Homo sapiens: one gene and its partner. The protein of the gene in region 1 purifies or fractionates together with the protein of each later gene. This does not show direct contact. Each region holds a gene or a part of one and is shown on either strand. Other genes may lie near its edges.

Region 1 (4,288 bases):
CTCCTTCACCCACCAGACTTTCAGGCCAGAGGCAGAGGCTGTCCTGTGGGGAACCCCAAATGTCCTGTTTCTGCTCCCAGTCCATCAGGAGTATTTTTCTTTTCTTTTCTTTTTTTTTTTGAGACAGAGTCTCGCTCTATCACCCAGGCTGGAGTGCAGTGGCATGATCTCAGCTCACTGCAGCCTCCACCTTCTGGGATCAAGCGATTTTCCTGCCTCATCCTCCCGATTAGCTGGGATTACAGGTGCCTGCCACCACGCCTGGCTAATTTTTTGTATTTTTAAGAGACGGGGTTTTACCGTGTTAGCCAGGATGGTCTCGATCTCCTGACTTCGTGATCCACCCGCCTAGGCCTCCCAAAGTGCTGGGATTACAAGCGTGAGCCACCGTTCCCAGCTTAGGAGTATTTTCTAAATGCACCTTGCTTTTTTTTTTGAGATGGAGTCTCACTCTGTTGCCCAGGCTGGAGTGCAGTGGTACGATCTTGGCTCACTGCTCAACCTCTGCCTCCTGGGTTCAAGCAATTCTCCTGCCTCAGCCTCATATGTAGCTGGGATTACAGGTGTGCACCATCACACCTGGCCAATTTTTGTATTTTTAGTAGAGATGGGGTTTCACCATGTTGGTCAGGCTGGTCTCAAACTCCTGACCTCCAGTGACCCACCCACCTCGGTCTTCCAAAGTGCTGGGATTACAGGCGTGAGCCACTGTGCCCGGCCCTAAATGCACATTTCATTTCAGAGCCTGGGTGGCTCTGATTTGTAACCTCAGGAAGCGGAGCCTGATGGCAGGTGGATGGGCCTGGCCCCAAGTGCTTGTGGAAGGAGCAGAGCCACAGGCTGGGTCAGAAACGTGCTGTCCCATGCGATCCTGGATGGAGATGCCTGATTTCAGTGGGTGGTGCCTCATGGATGATTGCTGGGTTGGGCAAGAGGAAGGACTTGGAAACCCTGTTTTTCTGTTTCATTTCCAAATCCTGGAGTGTCTTTTAGCCAACTATGGCAATAACACCTCCACTAACCTCCTCTCTTTGTGGCGCTGCAAGTGCCTTCCTTCTCCAACTCCTTGAGGCAGATTCTCCCTTGAGAATCCAGGGCACTCTGATGCTTCCTCTGAACCCCTTCTAGCGTTCTTTCCTCTTCAACCTCCTCTCGCTTCCCTGTCTCCTTCAGGAAGCCTTCCCTGAGGGCCTCAGTGACTTTGCTCCGGCCATCCCTCCCTGTCCCTCAGCACTGACATCCCAGTCTCCTGCCTGCTTCCTTGTCTTTGGGCATGCCTATTTCTCCAACAGCCTGGGAGCTCTGAGGGCAGGGTCTGGGTTTCCTTCTCCCTTGGCTCTGCACGTGCCGGACACTTATTCTCCAGGCACGTCAGAGTAAGTCAGCTGGAGCCAAGTGACAGACACAGTCAGGTCAAGAGTATCTTGCTCTCCAAGGCCCAGCCCAGGTACGGGAGTGGATAAAAGTCTCGTGCTGGGGCCCCAGGGCAGAAACTCACACACCTTGACAATCTGTCTGTCCGTCTGCAGCTGCGTGACTGTCTGTCTCTGCCATGTCTCTCTCCCCATGCCGGGCCCAGAGGGGCTTCAGCGCTCGCTCAGCCTGTTCTGCTCGCTCAAGGGGCCGCAGCAGGGGAGGCTTCAGCAGCAGGGGCGGCTTCAGCAGCAGGAGCCTTAATTCCTTTGGGGGGTGCCTGGAAGGCTCTCGTGGGAGTACCTGGGGGTCAGGGGGTAGGCTGGGGGTGCGGTTTGGGGAGTGGAGTGGTGGGCCTGGGCTCTCCCTGTGCCCTCCGGGGGGCATCCAAGAAGTGACCATCAACCAGAATCTGCTGACCCCACTGAAGATTGAGATCGATCCCCAGTTCCAGGTGGTGCGGACGCAGGAGACCCAGGAGATCAGAACCCTCAACAACCAGTTTGCTTCCTTCATTGACAAGGTGAGGGTCAACTCAGCCAAGCCCCTGTCTCTGTGCCTCCCTTGGAGGAGCTGCTCTTGATGGACTTGGAAATGGGAAGTTTGGCCTCCTTCTACCACTTTTCTAATAACTTCTGCAGCAAAGAAGTCCCTCCTGTGGACTAACTGGACTCTCTCTGGCTATGCTGAGGCCCTGTTGTTCCATGATTGGGGCTCAGGGACAGAGAACTGCCAGCCAGCGGGGGGAAGGCCCTGCCCCATTAGTCAGTCCAGTCATTTTGTTGTGTTCAGAGTGTCATGGAAGGTCATGAGGCTTCCCCTGCCCAGGTTGGGCAGGGGGACAGGGGAAAGGTGAGGCTGATGGGAGGGTCCCTCAGGCTTTACTTTCCAGAGGCTGTGCACAGGGAGTCCCACAGGAGCCTCAGGGATCCTCTGCTTTTGCTGCAGGTGCGGTTCCTGGAGCAGCAGAACAAGGTCCTGGAGACGAAGTGGCATCTGCTGCAGCAACAGGGGTTGAGTGGCAGCCAGCAGGGCCTGGAGCCTGTCTTTGAGGCCTGCCTGGATCAGCTCAGGAAGCAGCTGGAGCAGCTCCAGGGAGAACGAGGGGCTCTGGATGCTGAGTTGAAGGCCTGCCGGGACCAGGAGGAGGAGTATAAGTCCAAGTAGGCACACTGAAATTTCCCCATGCCATGTGGGCGGGGTCTGGGATGACTCAGTTTGGGTCTGTCAGCCAGGAGGTGTCCCACATACTGAGCACCCAGAGGCACATGACTGGCCTCCCCTCTACCCCTCCGCGTCCCCATTCCCCAGGCTCTCAGGTGCCCACCTGCTACAGGTAAACGAGGTGTCCCGCAGTCCCCAAGCAGATCTGGAGAACCTTGGAGGAAAGGCAGGGAGACCGGTGTCCTACATGCCCCAGCTACAAGGGCCCATGTTTCCGGTCAAGGCTGGGAAGGGCTTATTTAAACAATGCCCCAGTGGCTTTTTTTATTCTTGAGAAATTCCTGTTCAGCGGGCTGTGGGCTAAAGTGATTCAGATGTTCTCTGGTTCCAAAGAGGGAAGGGAATCAATTTAGTGGGGCTGTCCCCAGGCCTGTGACACAATTCACAGATGGGCTGTGGTTCTGGGCTCCACGCCTAGGTCACCTGGTGGAGTGGAGAGAGCCCTGGACTAATAGGGGGCTTGGGTTGGGGCAACTGTGAGTGAGGGGTAGCTGTGCATCCTGGGCAAGGCATCTCATCTCTCCCGGACTTGGTTTCCCTTCTGTAAACTTGGGAAATGTCACCTGCCCTTCTGGCCTCCCAGGGCTATTGGGATAATGGGATGTGAGGTGGAGGAAGGAAGGTTCTGGAAGGAGCCCTGGATTGGGGTCAGAAGACCTGGGCTGGCTCTGCTTTGTCTACCTAGTCATCTGTGGGGTCTTGGTCAAATCATCTAATCTCTCTGATAAAACCCAAACTGCCTACCTCAAGTGATGGGTGTGAGTAGCAAGTGGGAAAAGGTATTCGAATGTGCCTTATAAACTGAAACAATGTGGCTGTCGTCATCAAAAGGACATGGGCTGAAAGGGTGGCACAGGTACATAGCTAGGACGTGGCAGGAAAGGAGAGAAGGGCTGGTTATTGTCTTGTTTGGGGGCATTCTAAGGCAAGGAGTCCTTTTCAGGGAGGTCATGCTCGGACATGGGGGCATGAGCTCTGACCGTGGAGCCTCAAACTGCATCCTTCTCTACTTATTTGGCAGGTATGAGGAGGAGGCCCACAGGCGTGCCACACTTGAGAACGACTTTGTGGTCCTCAAGAAGGTGAGGGTGGGGGCCAGTGCTCCACTTACGTTCTGAGCATCCACTGTGCACGGAGCCTAGTCCTAGGCTGGGAGGGAAAAGGTGGGAGGTCCTGATTTAGGACAGGCTATCACTCTACCTGCAGGGGTCCCCTGGGAAAATGGGACATCTGCCTAGACACAGGGGCCCCAAGGCAAGATCTGACTAAAGGACTGCTTGACGAGCTCTTGATGTCACTGCAGGAGAGGGCGGGGAGGGAGAGGAAGAAGCAGAACTGGTTGTGATTAATCAGGGAAGACTTCCTGAAGGTGATGTTGGGTCAATGTTGGGCAAAGGAGAGAGCAGGACAGAGTGGGGCTGGAGGAGGAAGGAGGGGGTCTTGGGAGGCATGGTGGATGGGTGTTGAGCAGTGCATGAACAGAATTCCTGAGCCAGAGTAGGGACCCCAAAGAGGAAGAGGGGGTTACGTGTTCTCTCTCCCCTTGTCTCCAGGATGTGGATGGGGTTTTCCTGAGCAAGATGGAGTTGGAGGGCAAGCTGGAGGCTCTGAGAGAGTACCTCTACTTCTTGAAGCATCTGAATGAAGAAGT
Region 2 (3,500 bases), on another chromosome or scaffold:
AAGCATTTATTAAATAATGTAGTGGCATACGTTATTAAATATATTACTATATTATAATTTGAGTGCCCCTTTCCTAGGCTTAGTTATTCTTTTCTTCTAGCATAAACTTAGACTCAAATGTTTATGCTAGGTGGGGCGCAGTGGCTCATGCCCGTAATCCCAGCACTTTGGGAGGCTAAGGCAGGAGGACTGCTTAAGCCCAGGAGTTTGAGACCATCCTGGGTGACAAAGCAAGAGCCCATATCTTAAAAAGAAACATTAGCTGGGCATGGTGGTGCACACCTATAGTCCCAGCTACTTTGGAGGCTGAGGTAGGAGAGTTACGAGCCCAGGTGTTCGAGGCTGCAGTGAGCTAGGATCATGCCATTGCACTTCAGCCTGGGCGACAGAATGAAACCTTGTCTCAAAAAAAAAAAAAGTTTAGAACTAGATGATTCTTAGTAATCATCTGATCTAACCTCCATCTTATCCAGAGTTGAGATAACTGGCATTACTAAGGTAAGTTCTGCCTTTTCTATTTACAAGGCTGCATGTGTGGGCCAACTGTGCTTCAGTTGGTATGTTCAGGGAATGTGAACTTACTTTCATAAAAACCTAAACAGAATTTATTAGGTAGATAAATTCCCTGAAAAGTAAATACATTTTGAATTGTCAGCATCCTGCTCCTCACCACTCATGTAGATAATCTAAAGTTATCAGGGTAGCCATTTCACGGAAAACTCACCCTCATCGTCACTACTACTAGTATGGATCTCAGGAGATGAGTCAGATTGGGATGATGAAAATTCTTCTTTCCATTTTTTCCGTTTCTTTGGTGGTGGCTCAGCCTTTACTTTTGGCTGTTTAACTTTGGGTTTCACGGAAGGGGCTTTTGTAGTTGTAGTTTTTGATGCTAGAGGATCAGAAGTTTTACTGCTACTACTTGGCTTAGCTTGAACAGTTCTGCAATGTTATAAACAAACTTCATTAACACACTGAAATCTTGTTAAACTAAAATAAAATAGAAAAATAAAAGAGAATCACAGGAGAAGATTATCTAATTACTCTCACCAATACCTTCAAAATATACAGTCCAAGTCCTATATACATCTCAATGGTGATTCCCATAAAATTTTCTTAAAATACATTCTTTTCACCAGAAGCATTCAATATTCAGTTATTAAGGGACTTTTAGTTCAGTCCTTATTTCTACTTCTTCATTGCCCTCCTTGATTTATGGACTTATTTCCCAGAGACTATGAGGCTGTACAACAGATGATCAGTGGGCTTAGGAAGGTAATGAATGTTATAACCGTAATTGCCATATCTAGCTCTGACCCTAAGAAACTCTCACAGGCTCTGGTGGTGTCAGGTTTTGATGTAGAAACCCAAATGCGGCGCGGTGGCTCATGCCTGTAATCCTAGCACTTTGGGAGGCTGAGGTGGGTGGATCACTTGAGGTCAGGAGTTCAAGACCAGCCTGGCCAACATAGTGAAACCCCATCTCTACTAAAAATACAAAACCAGCTGGGAGTGGTGGCGGGCGCCTGTAGTCCCAGCTACTCGGGAGGCTGAGGCAGGAGAATCGCTTGAACCCGGGAGGTGGAGGTTGCAGTGAGCCAAGATCACGCCGCTGCACTCCAGCCTGGGCGACAGAGCAAGACTCTATCTCAAAAAAAAGAAAAAAAAAAAAAAAAGAAAAAAAAAGAAAAAAAAGAAAAACCCAAATGCATCTGTCCTAGAGTCCCTCGAGATTTGCTGTATGCCAGCTGGGTATGGTGGCTCATGCCTGTAATCCCAGCATTTTGGGAGGCTGAGGCAGGCAAATTGCTTGAGCCCAAGAGTTCAAGACCAGCCTGAGCAACATGGTAAAATCCCATCCCTATAAAAATTAGCTGGGCACAGTGGTGCACACCTGTAGTCCCAGCTACTTGGGAAGTTGAGGCAGGAGGATCACCTGAGCCTGGGAGGTCGAGGCTGCAGTGCCGTGATCATGCCACTACACTGCAGCCTTAGTGACAGGGTGAGACCCTGTCTCAAATAAAAAAGATTTGCTCTCTTCCAGGTCTGAAGATTTGAGTGGATAAAATTCCATCATAAAAATAAGGTAAGCTGCTTCCAGTAGGTGGGAATGTTAATGAAACTGGACCTACTTGGCACTGGAGTAAGAACATCTACGGTCATACCTGCTTCTCATGCAGACCACAGGGTCAAGTCAGTTATCTTCCAGATTCATGCTCCAGACAACCCAGAGTCACATTAATACACAATAATAATTCTACTGTGTACACTTGTACAGTAATGTAGTTCTTATAGTTTTTTTATCAATAATTATTTTAAATTTAATTTACTTCATTATATTATTTACATTTTATAGATGAAAAAGGGAGCTTCAGGAAAGCTGTCTTCTCTAAGTCACATAAAGCTGGACTCAAACTTTTTGCCTCTACAATTTTTTTTCACAATACTGGGATGACACCAAAAGGACTTAGGGAAAAGAAAAGGGCACCCACCCACCACAGATAGCCATGAGCTTTACAGTGCCCATCTCATGCCTTCAAAAGAATCACTTATTTCATCAGGCACTGAAATTTTTTGACTTGTGTATAATAAAAAAAATCTATTTAATTGATATGCTCCTTTGTACATTGGTATCATCAATAATACACCTATATATATGCACAAATATATCACCTAAGAAAACAAATACCTGATAGTTTGTGAAGGTTTATTTCTTGGCTTTTTAGAACACACTCTGACATATTCCTTCTTGTTTGCATTTTCAATGAACTTCACATATATTCTTTTGTATTTACTCTTTGCATCTCCAAAATATCCAAGATACTGAGGAAGGAAACACTTTGAGTTACATAATTGAACAATCTAGATACAAATGCTACTTTGTTTGTTCAATTGACTATCCCATAGCCAACCTTCAAGTTTTCTAAAATGCAGCTCTGGCCAGGCTAATTTTACCCTCAAAAACTGATCCCAGGCTCATTATTGATTTCATATGTACAAGCAATCTCATTTGGCATATTCTTACTTCCAGCTACATTAAGTATGACAGAATAACTTCCATCAGTCTTCTGGTAAATCAGGATATTTGACTAGTAGAATAATCAATATAAAGGAGCCTCTGAGTCAATCTGAACTCTTCATAGGCTAACATTAATCCCTTTCCTTTATTAAAAAAAAAAGTTAAACAATAGTACAAGGTCATTTAATTTTAAATAGCTGATATTTAACAAATGACTTTATTTTTATATTAGACTATCAAAGAGCATCAATATTCTAGTTCAAATTATATGCTACTTTATATCAAAAATATTCAATATAAAATACTTCTATATTTAAATCATTGTTTTTCTCAGGACCACTGTCAAAATAAGGCTAATGTAAACATGCATTTTACTTACACTATTTGTAGCAGCAAATTCTCTTTGACCATCTCGAATTTCAGGAACAAATTTCTGTAATAAAGCTTTTTGTACTTTCCAAATAGCTGGAGGTTCTTTTCC

Evidence for each region. The genes of interacting proteins can lie anywhere in the genome.
Region 2: the proteins of KRT78 (region 1) and QSER1 purify together in Homo sapiens (affinity purification with mass spectrometry; one large-scale study listed by BioGRID and IntAct). This does not show direct contact.

What each region holds. Positions count from the first base shown.
Region 1 is NC_000012.12:52,846,195-52,850,482, reverse strand, and holds the start of KRT78 (keratin, type II cytoskeletal 78), read left to right. Parts: upstream 1-1,488; 5' UTR 1,489-1,552; coding exon 1,553-1,936; intron 1,937-2,199; exon of another isoform or gene 2,200-2,211; coding exon of another isoform or gene 2,212-2,265; intron 2,266-2,361; coding exon 2,362-2,576; intron 2,577-3,658; coding exon 3,659-3,719; intron 3,720-4,190; coding exon 4,191-4,286; intron 4,287-4,288.
Region 2 is NC_000011.10:32,955,311-32,958,810, reverse strand, and holds part of QSER1 (glutamine and serine-rich protein 1), read right to left. Parts: coding exon 3,399-3,500; intron 2,824-3,398; coding exon 2,690-2,823; intron 2,474-2,689; exon of another isoform or gene 2,357-2,473; intron 2,087-2,356; exon of another isoform or gene 2,045-2,086; intron 943-2,044; coding exon 725-942; intron 1-724. UniProt on the Homo sapiens protein: Plays an essential role in the protection and maintenance of transcriptional and developmental programs.